Linked DNA regions of Homo sapiens: region 2 is linked to region 1. Evidence: fine-mapped QTL for protein levels in blood plasma. A gene starts in region 1. The other region holds a variant in brackets. All regions are shown on one strand. Distances are from middle to middle.

Evidence for each region. PIP is the posterior inclusion probability: the model's chance that the variant is causal. Protein levels are from the aptamer-based SomaScan assay of Sun 2018.
Region 2: its variant is fine-mapped to the plasma level of the TREM1 protein (Sun 2018, PIP 0.95).

The regions. Positions count from the first base shown.
Region 1 is chr6:41,284,401-41,289,785 of GRCh38, reverse strand. It overlaps TREM1 (triggering receptor expressed on myeloid cells 1), which reads left to right and starts at 3,104. Exons shown (of 4, transcript NM_018643.5): 1 at 3,104-3,179. The coding sequence starts at 3,131. RefSeq lists a silencer at 1,030-1,119.
Region 2 is chr6:41,262,119-41,267,503 of GRCh38, reverse strand. It overlaps a transcript of TREM1 not described here. Among named protein-coding and RNA genes, the nearest start is that of TREM1, 22 kb to the left of the region's middle. The variant A/T (reference allele first, on the strand shown) is at 2,965.

The sequences.
Region 1 (5,385 bases):
TTTGCAGTTTTCCCCACTCTCAGAAGTAGTCTCATTGGGCCTCCTCAGAGATATCAGCACCAGGGTCACACTATCCTCAGAGATCTGTGTTCCAGTTCCATGTGGGCCCCTCCTCTGAGCCAGAAAAGAAGATATTTTATATGCAATCTCATTGTTAAAAAATGTTACACATATATTCTAGCTAGGTTAGATTAACCAATCTTTATTAAGGAAGAAACTGCTAATTTACCCCATAGTGAAGATCGAGACCTACTGACTTGGGGCAGTGACTTATTGAAGACAAAACAAAACAGAATAATATTGGTATTATTTCATTAATTGTATCAATGTTGAAACTGTATTGATTTCATAATAGCTCTGAAGATGAAGTTTGGCAAATATGGAAAGGTTCATGGTACCCAAAGACTAAATCTTCCTAGTGCTAGAGGCCACCCTATGAGCAAGCATGGAAATGGGACATGTGACCCAGCCTTAGTAAAATTAACAGGAACCATAGGTCACAAATGACAGTGCTCTTCTATGAGAAGCCTTAAGAAATAATATCTTGTTGGGAGCAGTAGCTTGAGAATTTAAAGAGACCCTAATAGTTAGGCAGGAATATCGTCCTGCCTATTCAGCCTGAAGAAGTTACTGATCGGGTCATTAAACTCCTCAGAAAAATAAAGTGGTAAGGATTAGAGAATGCTGCCATGTGCTGCACAAGGAAGTTTTGGTCCATGACAGACTGCATATATGGTGGAGGTCCCATAAGATTATAATGTCATAATACCGTATTGTTACTATGCCTCTTCTATGTTTAGATACACAAATACTTACTATTGTGTTACAAATGCCTACAGTATTGAGGACTGTAACATACTGTGCAGGCTTGCAGCCTAGGAATATGCTTTACTTTGATTTATGTTCAAGTATCATTCTCCCTTAGATTTTGTGAGGTTGAAAGGTATTTGTCTAAACTGGATGTGAATGGAGAGGGGGCCTCCGGAGAGCAAAGGGCCCTCTGTTCCCCTTCCTAATATTAATAGGCTATACCATACAGCCTAGGTGTACAGTAGGCTGTGCCATGTTAAGTTCGTGTAAGTGCACTCCATGATGTTCCTGCAACACAAAATCACCTAGCAACACATTTCTCAGAATGTATCTGTCATTAAGTGACACGTGACTATTTGCACTGTTGACCTCAAGTACACAAATAGATCAGACAAGTGGAGAAAGACCTCATTCTACTTCATTCTAATTTAAATGCAGGTGCTGTCCGTAGTTAGGAAAATGTGAAGGAGCAATCAGCCTCCAGTGATATTCAAGTCTAATTAAAAATTCTTCTTGGACTGTTTAGTTCAAAGCTCCCTCTTAATCTTCCAGGAGCTTAATCCTCCACACAAAGTATATGAAGACACAAAAATGTAGAAAGTATGTGAAATAGCTATTATTTAAGTGTGGAATATTAATTTTGTTGTAAGGAGGGGATTTATTCACTGAAATAAACTTTATTAATTTGACTCATCGCCACAGAAGTCACGTAGGCTCCTCTCTGAGTCAGAAAATGTCAAGAGCTTTCTGTCTATTTTTCCTCTTTAGGGACTGCTTGAGTACAGCAAAAGGAGGGGCCAGCAGATTTCAGTTCAAGCATGTTTGAAGCCTGTTTTCCGACATTATTTGTAGAACAAAAAATAAACATAGTAAAATCTCCACTACAAATGATCTCTATAAAGTGTAATAACATGATTTAAGTTTATGTATTATTTTCTATATTTTATAAATTGCTGCATTGAACAGCTTTAATAAAAAAAATTAAAGTTAGCCTTGAAAATTTTTTTGGTTGTTGTTTGTTTTAATTTACAGACATGATAGTACCTTTTAGCTGTTCCTATACTTGAGTAGCAATCAATTTGGGTGTAAAATATTAGGGTCATAATGTTCTTTATACCTCATCCCACTCTCTCATGGTATTTGTTACTCAGAGAAGAAATCTGAGTCCTGATTATTTCAATTCCTTTGAAGAAACCAAGTTATTTTTTTGTTTATTTAGCAGTAGGAATCTTTTTATTTAAATTTAAAAATTTTCACCTGGAAACTTCCTATTCTAGGTCTCACTTTGTGAATTTTTTCCTTGCCCATGTTGAACTCTCAACCTCCAATTTTAGATTTCTTCTCAGACCTGGAAAGCATATTTTTTAAGATAAAATTTTTAATCTTGCTTGTGATCCACCATTCCATTTTATGCTTTAAGGACATCTCTGATTTGTAGATTGGAATTCTGTGATTTGTCCTCCCTTAAATTTCTGAGCTCTTCTAAATGTCTTTATTCATTTCACATTTGGGAATATTTCTGAAGTGAATCCTCTCCATTATTGATTTGATTTTCACACTGTCAAATCTGTCTTTTCTTGCTTCTAGTACAAAACCTGCTGGATTTTTTCTTCTTGCTTCAGCGTCTTGAACCAAGTTTCCTTTTTAAATCTAAGTCTGTTCTTGTTGGGTGGTGGCAGTGTCCTCTCAAATTGTTTCTGGGGTCCCTACACCCCCGTGAGCTCCCAGGCCATGTCTGTGGCAATGCTGAAGGACAAATGCAGGGTGTGGCCCTCCTGGTGATGAAGAGGAGGTGCACCCCAGGTCACCAGAAGCCAAGAGAACCCACGGGGCTGAGCAGGGCAGGATGAAGCAACATGTTCTCACAAAAACCCTGAAGATGAGATACGATTGTCGCAGCCTCTCCCTATGTGGGCCTGACTCTCTTCACTACACTAAACTGGATGTGAATGGAGAGGGGGCCTCTGGAGAGCAAAGGGCCCTCTGTTCCCCTTCCTAATATGAATGCCTTACTTTGATTTACATTCAAGTATCATTCTCCCTTAGATTTTGTAAGGTTGAAAGGTAATTGTCATTATTACCACAGAAAGGAAAACTGGAGTTCAAAGAAACTTAACTGAGAAGTGAGTCTTGGTCTCTGTATTATTGTGTTGATGTCAGGAGTCAGAGCAACTGGTGATGAAACAGAACCCAAACTCAGTGACTCCCAGGAATGGCCTCATATCCTGTTGTGCAACTTTCCGAAGCCTCTAGGTCATTGTGGTGCCTTGTAGCTGTCCCGGGAGCCCTCAGCAGCAGTTGGAGCTGGTGCACAGGAAGGATGAGGAAGACCAGGCTCTGGGGGCTGCTGTGGATGCTCTTTGTCTCAGGTAAGACAAGGAAGAGGACTGAGCAGGGGAGGCGTTTGGTCCAGGATCTCGGGGAGCCCTTTTCTGTTGAAGCTTCAGAGCACAGGGCCATCCAAGATAGAGCCAACCAGTAGTTATGGCAGACCGTGCTGCTCTACCCAGAATTGGGAGAACATGCAGTGTCTGCACACAAAAGTAAAAGAAGGAGAGAGTCAGGGAAAAAAGATGTCTGTGCATGTCGATGTTGTTAGAGACATGCAAAGCCTAGTATGGGAATAATGATAGAGTAGATCTCATCATGGCATGATCTACAATAAGTTTATTTGATGTTGAAATTTTTTTCTTATATTCCATCATGATGTGTTTGATGTTGACAATCTGTTAAACCCAAAAGACAGAATTGATTTAACAAATATTTCCCAGGGGTCTACTATGGGACAGCAAATATACTACTGCTGAGGACACAGACGTGACCAGAAGAGGCTGGTGCTCATTTTGGTGGAGGTGATCATCCCAGCTCTCCATGGCACGCTGGGGTTGGAGGGCACAGTTGCTGAGGCTCAGCAGAGCCGGCGCATGCCCCAGCTCTTTCTTGTGTCTCCTCTTACGATCCGCACAGCTCACATCTGCACCCAAACCAGAAGCATGCGGGCTTTATTCACTCCTCCTCCTAATCCTTATGAATAACAGGAGGAAAGTGTCAATATGAGTTAAAAGCGAGGCTTGCCTTGGGAAGGCATGAAAAATCAGGGAGAGGTATCCTCCTGGGCTCTCTACTTTGAGCAAAGTCATGGACAACTGCCTTGAAGAGCCTGTGCTCAGACATTGCTCTGGGTCTTCTTGGAGCTGGGGTGATAATCTAGATGGGCAGAAGGGAGTTAGCTCCTCATGGACAAGTGCATTTCCTTGTGTTTGATTCATGTTTTTCTGAAGGAGAACTGGGAGATGGCAGAGGGCTGAAGGTTATGTACCTGTGTGAGAGAAAACCAGTGGTATATATTTCATTGTGCCCTGTGGGGATAGGTTAGGGGTTAACCTCAATGCTCCTTGCAACTGGATACTTATTCACACTTGGGCCAGGACTTCTCTAATCCCTATCAGACTGTGTTGGACCATGTAGCTCAGTGCTTTAGGTGGAACCAGAGTCCTTGGGTTTGAATCCTGGCTCTAGTACTTAACTATGGTGAGACTTTGGGCAAATCACTTAATCTGTCTGTGCCTCAGTTTCCTTATCTATAAAATGGGGAGAATAATGGTGTCAACTTTTTACTTTATAAAGATTAAATAAGATAGTCTTTAAAAACCCTTAGCACATAATACTTAATAGGTAGTATTTGCTACCCTTTTAATTAACATATTCAAAGGAATTCCCTTCTTGCAATTGTGCACAGACAGCTCAGCAGCCTTCATTTCTTATTGTCTCCTTCCTTCTGTGAGAGACAGGCAAGTTTGCAAACTCAGTCACCTGTAACTCCCACCTTCCCTGGGGAGCTGGCAAATAAAAGAGATTTATCTGTAACATTAACTTCAGAGGTTAGGGCTTCAGTGGTGGCAACTTGAGGATGGAGTCTGTGTGTCTTCCAAAGAGCCCAGCACAGTGCCTATGATAGAGAAGTCTCCCAGCCAGTCTGATGAGTGAGTGAACAAATGAGGGAACCAGGCTTGGTTTCAGACAACACTCAGCCTCTGGTCAACAGTCTCTTGGAGGCACATTCCTGACTGGAGTGTGTGGGAGTTGCCCAAGAGGTCTGTTTCCGAGGTTTCCCTAGAAACTGGAGTCTGCTCCCAGAAGAACTGGCTTTCAAGACTGATTTCACCTTTAAACTCCTTGTGAGTCCCTGAGTTGAGTCTTCCTAAGGTCAGGCAGATCTGTTGGCCTATCCTGGGGTGGGCATGCCAGGGGGCTCCATGAAAGGGTAAGCACTTGTCATTTTTCACCAGGCCTGCAAGGACCTAAGTGTGTGGTATTAATAACAGCAGTACTAGTGTTACCGTGACCCACACAGTAGACCCAGCAGCACTGTCTAGCCTGTTATTTGGTGCTCCATGGGGGAAGGTACCCCAGGCCTGAGTGGGTAAGCTACAGTCTCTCAGCAAACTTAGAGAGCCCTGTGTGTCCAGCTGAAAACACGGACCTTGGTCTTCTCACTTCCGCTCTGCTTGGCCTCCCATCAGCAAGGCTCCCTTGGACAAGGCCAGATGAGCATCCCCAATTCTAGATGGTTAA
Region 2 (5,385 bases), 22 kb after region 1:
TATTTGCATGCATGTAGATTCTTGAAAATATATAGAATTGATTTTGTGTGCTTTTGTTTTTTACACATTTCACTCTGTTGTAGAAAAAAATCTGCAATTAAACTGAAACTTCTGCATTATCTATTGCACTCTCTTCTTTATGTTATCTGGTAATCATTTTGTGAGAGAAGTCTAACTTTCACAAAGGCAGGTTATTGATAGACAAGCAAACTCTGCCCTGTCTTCCTTCCCCTGCTGAGAGGGAAAAGCAAACCCCAAACTGATATGCTTCCACGTACAATTCATTTCAATATTCCTTTACTTCATATACATTTGTGCCTTTTGACTTCCATTTTTAAACTGGTATAACATCTTCTCAAATAAATTATGTATTATGAGTTAAATAAAATTTTTAGCATGTGTTTATTTTTGTCTCATGGTTTAAGCTTTTTTTTTGAAAATTATAACTCTAGTTATATGTTTTCAGATAGCATTGTGCTTCTGAGACTATCCGTTGTTGCTATATGTAAATCTAAATCTTCAATTTTTGGCTGCTAGGTAGGATTTCATATAATGTAGGGGCAGTATTGGATTTCATTTTTCTGTTCCCCCTAGTGATGGGAACCTAAGTTGCTTCAACTCTTTACTACCACAAAACAACACAAGCATACAAACAGAAAAACAAGCAAACAAAATACCTCAAAATAAACACTTCCATTCATGCTCTTGAAGGAGCCATATAAGAATTTTTTAAACTACATGTTAAGTTGGCATTAAGCCAAATAGAAAATAGGAACAAAATAGAGGGTTTAGGAACATACCCACACATAGACAGTCACTTGACTGCCACTAAAGGGCCTCTGCAATTTAGTGTGGAAAAGATGTTGTTTCTATCAAAGGGTAATGATCAGTTGGATACCCACCCAGAAAACAAAATAGGTTTTTAACTCTTTCACACTGCACATGAAATTAATTGAAAATGCATCATAGACCTAAATATAAAAGGTGAAAACAATATAGTTTCTGGAAGAAAATGTAGAAAAAATGACCTTGGAGAAGTCAAATATTTTCTAAACAGGACGTAAAAAATAGTATGCATAACAGAGCATAAGTCAGGGATGGAACATTGAGCATGGGATAGCCACATATTTATGCCACAGAGGCTCCAGATTGTTCTCCAGAATGTTGGGTCATGTTGCATTCCCCCCAGCAGGGCTCAAGGATCCCCCTTTCCTCCACTCTCACCAACTCCTAGTGTCATCCACCTTCCATGTGCTCACCATTCAGATGAGTTCAAAGTGACAGTTCCATGTTTTAAAATTAGTATTTCTCTAACTAACACGATCAAACATCTGTTTATGAGTTTCTTGGGCATATAGTTTTTTACTGCAATGTATAACCTATTTCTAACCATTTTCTATTTGGCTTCCTTCCTTCCGCTTGTTGATTTTTAATCAGCCCTTGGTTAGTTTAGATGTTGAAATTATTTGTATAAATTCACAGGATACAAATGCAATTTCATTACATGCACGAATTGCAAAGTGTCCAAGTAAGGGTTTTTAGGGTATCCATCACCTGAATGATGTACATTATACCATTAAGCAATTTATCATCATCCACCCCACCCCCATCCCCTCACTCTTCTGAGTCTCTATTGTCTATTATTCTACTCTCTATGTTCATGTGTACAAATATTTTAGCTTCAGCTTATGAGTGAAAGTATGCACTATTTGTCTTTCTGTGTCTGACTTGTTCCACTTAAGCTAATGGCTTCCAGTTCCATCCATGTTGCTGCAAAAGACATGATTTCATTATTTTTATGGCTGAATAGTATTCCATTGTGTATATATATCATACTTTATTTATCCAGCCATCTGTTGATGGACACTTTGGTTGATTCCATATCTTTGCTATTGTGAAGAGTGCAGATAAACACACAAGTGCAGGTATCCTTTTGATATATTGATTTATTTTTCTTTTGTTAGGTATACAGTTGGGATTGCTGGATCAAATGATAGTTCTATTTTTAATTCTTTGAGAAATTTATTTTTTGTTAGTAGCTGTTCTAACTTACATTCCCACCTGCGGTGTATAAGAGTTCCATTTTATCTGCATCCTTGCCAACATCTGTTCTTTTCTGACTTTTTAACAATGGCCATTCTGATTGGTATAAAATGTCTGTTGATGTCCTTTGCCCACATTTTAATGAGATTATTTGGGTTTAATGGGTTTTTTTGGTTGTTGAATTGCTTGAGTTCCTTGTATATTCTTGATATTAGTCCCTTGTTGGAGGTACAGTTTGCACATATTTTCTCCCATTCTAAAGTGTTGTTCATCTTTTTTTTTTCTGTGCAGAAGCTTTTAAGTCTCATTTGTCTATTTTTGTTTTTGTTGTCTCTGTTTTTGAGGTCTTAGTCATAAATTCTTTGCCTAAACTAATGTCCAGAAGAGTTTTCCCTAGGTTTTCTTCTGTTATTTTTATAATGTTAGGTCTTATGTTTAAGTTTTTAATCCATCTTGAGTTATTTTTGTATATGGTGAAAGATGGGGGACCAGTTTCATTCTTTTGCATAGGGACATTCAATTTTCCCAGCACCATTTATTTAGAAGGGTGTCCTTTCCCCAATGTATGTTCATGTCAACTTTGTCAAAAATGAATTGGCCACAAATAAGTGGCTTTATTTCCAAGTTCTCTATTCTGTTCCACTGATCTACATGTCTATTTTTATACCAGTGCCAAACTGTTTTGGTTACTATTGTTATATTAGTGTTGTAATATAATTGGAAGTCAGGTAACACCATGCCTCCAGCTTTGTTCTTTTTGCTTAGAATTGTTTTGGCTATTTGGGTTCTTTTTGGTTTCCATGTGAATTTTAGGATTATGTTTTTCTAATTCTGTGAAAAATAATATTGATATTTTGATAAGGATTGCATTGAATCTGTAGACTGCTTTGGGCAGTATGGTCATTTTATTTATTTATTTAT[A/T]TATATATATATATATTTATTTATTTATTTATTTAGAGATGGAGTCTCACTCTGTCACCCAGATTGGAGTGCAGTGGCGTGATCTCAGCTCACTGCAACCTCTGCCTCCCAGGTTCAAGCAATTCCCCTGTCTCAGCCTCCCAAGTAGCTGGGATTACAGGCACACGCCACCATGCCTGGCTAATTTTTGTATTTTTAGTAGAGACAGGGTTTCACCATATCGGTCAGGCTGGTCTCAAATTCATGACCTCAGGTGATCCACCCACCTCGGTCTCCAAAAGTACCGGGATTAAAGGCATGAGCCACCACGCCCAGCCTATTTATTTTTATTTTTAATAGTAATCCTATTAACTGAAGTATGGTCATTGTAATGATACTAATTTTTTTGATCCATGAGCATGAAATGTTTTTCCATTTGTTTTTGTTATCTATAATTTCTTTCATCAGTGTTTTGTAGATCTTTCACCTCCTTGGTTAAATCTATTCCTACATATTTAAATTTGTTTGAAACTATTGTATATGGGATTGCCTTCTTTATTTTATTCTCAGCTATATCATTATTGGTGTATAGAAACACTACTGATTTTTGTACATTTATTTTGCATCCTGCAACTTTACTAAACTCATTTATCAAATCTGAGAGTTTTGTGGTGAAGTCTTTAGGCTTTTCCAGATATAAGATCATGTGATCAGCTAAGAGTAGTAATTTGACTCCCTCCTTTCCAATTTGGATGTCTTTTATTTCTTTATCTTACCCAATTGCTCTGGTCAGGACTTCCAGTACTATGTTGAACAGGACTGGTGAAAGTAGGCATCCTTGTCTTGTTCCAGGTCTTAGAGGAAATGCTTTCAACTTTTCCCCATTCAGTCTGTTGGCTGTGAGTTTGTCATATATGGCTCTTGTTATTTTGAGGTATGTTCCTTTGATGCCTAGTTTGTTGAGGGTTTTTAATTGTGAAGGGATGCTGAATTTTTGAATGCTTTTTCTGTGTCTATTGAGATGATAATACATTTTTTGTCCTTAATTCTGTTTATGTGCTATATCACATTTATTGCTTTGCATTGTGGAACCATCCTTGCATTCCTAGTATAAAACACATTTAATCATCGTGTACTTTTTTTTGATGTACTGTTGGTTTTTGTTTGCTAGTGTTTTGTTGAGAAATTTTGTGTCTATGTTTATCAGGAATATTAGTATGTAGACTTCTTTTCTTTGTTGTGTCCTTTTCTGGTTTTGGTATCAGGGATCTATTGGCCTTGTAGAATGAGTTATGAAGAATTCTCTCCTCATTGATTTTTTTGGAAGATGTCTTTTTGAGGAGGATTAGTAGAATTCAGCTATGAATCTATCCGGTCCTGAGCTTTTCTTATTTTTTCTTTTATTCTTTTTTTTTTTTTTTTTTTTTTTTCCTGAGATGGAGTTTCGCTCTTTTTGCCCAGGCTGGAGTGCAATGGCAAGATCTCTGTTAGGTAGAAACCTAACAGGTTTCACTTGTTTCTAAAAGTTTTTAAATTTCTAACTTAATTTCTTCATTGGTCCAGTGATTTTTTTTGGGAGTGTGTTAATTTCCATGTATTTGTATAGTTTCCAAAGTTCTTCTTGGTATTGATTTCTAGTTTTATTCCACTGCAATCCTAGAAGATACTTTATATAATTTCTATTTTAAAAAACTTATTCCACTGTGATGTGGAATAAATTTTGATGATCATAGAAGATATTTCATATGATTTCTATTTTTAAAAATTTGTTGAGACTTATTTTGTAGCCTACTATATGGTCTATCTTGGAGAAGTTTCCAAGGGCTGCTGAAAGAATGTATATTCTGCAATTGTTGGGTAGAATGTTCTCTAGATGTCTGTTGATTTGTTCTAACGTCCAATTATGTCCAATGTTTCTTTGTTGATTTTAGATCATTTTGTAGATAAACTGTTTAATACCGTGAGTGGGGTGTTGAAGGCCTTCATTATTATTGTATTGCTGTCTATCTCTTTAGGTCTAATATTATTTGTTTTATGAATCTAGGTGCTCCAGTGTTGGGTACATATATATTCAGAATTGTTTTATCCTCTTGCTGAATCAATCCTTTTATCAGTATATAATAACCTTATTTGTCTTTTTATGTTGTTTTTCATTTAAAGTCTGTTTTATACTACATAAGTATAGCTACTCCTGATCACTTTTGGTTTCCATTTGCATGGAATATCTTTTTCCACACTTTGCTTTCAGTCTGTATATGTCTTTATAGATAATGTGAGTTTCTTGTAAGCAGCATATAGTCGAATCATGTTTAAAAAAATTAATTCAGCCAATCTATATCATTTAAGTGGAGCATTTAATGCATTTACATTTAAAGTTAATATTGATATGTGGGGTTTTGTTTCTCTCATATTGCTAATTATTTTCTAGTTGTTCTATCAAGT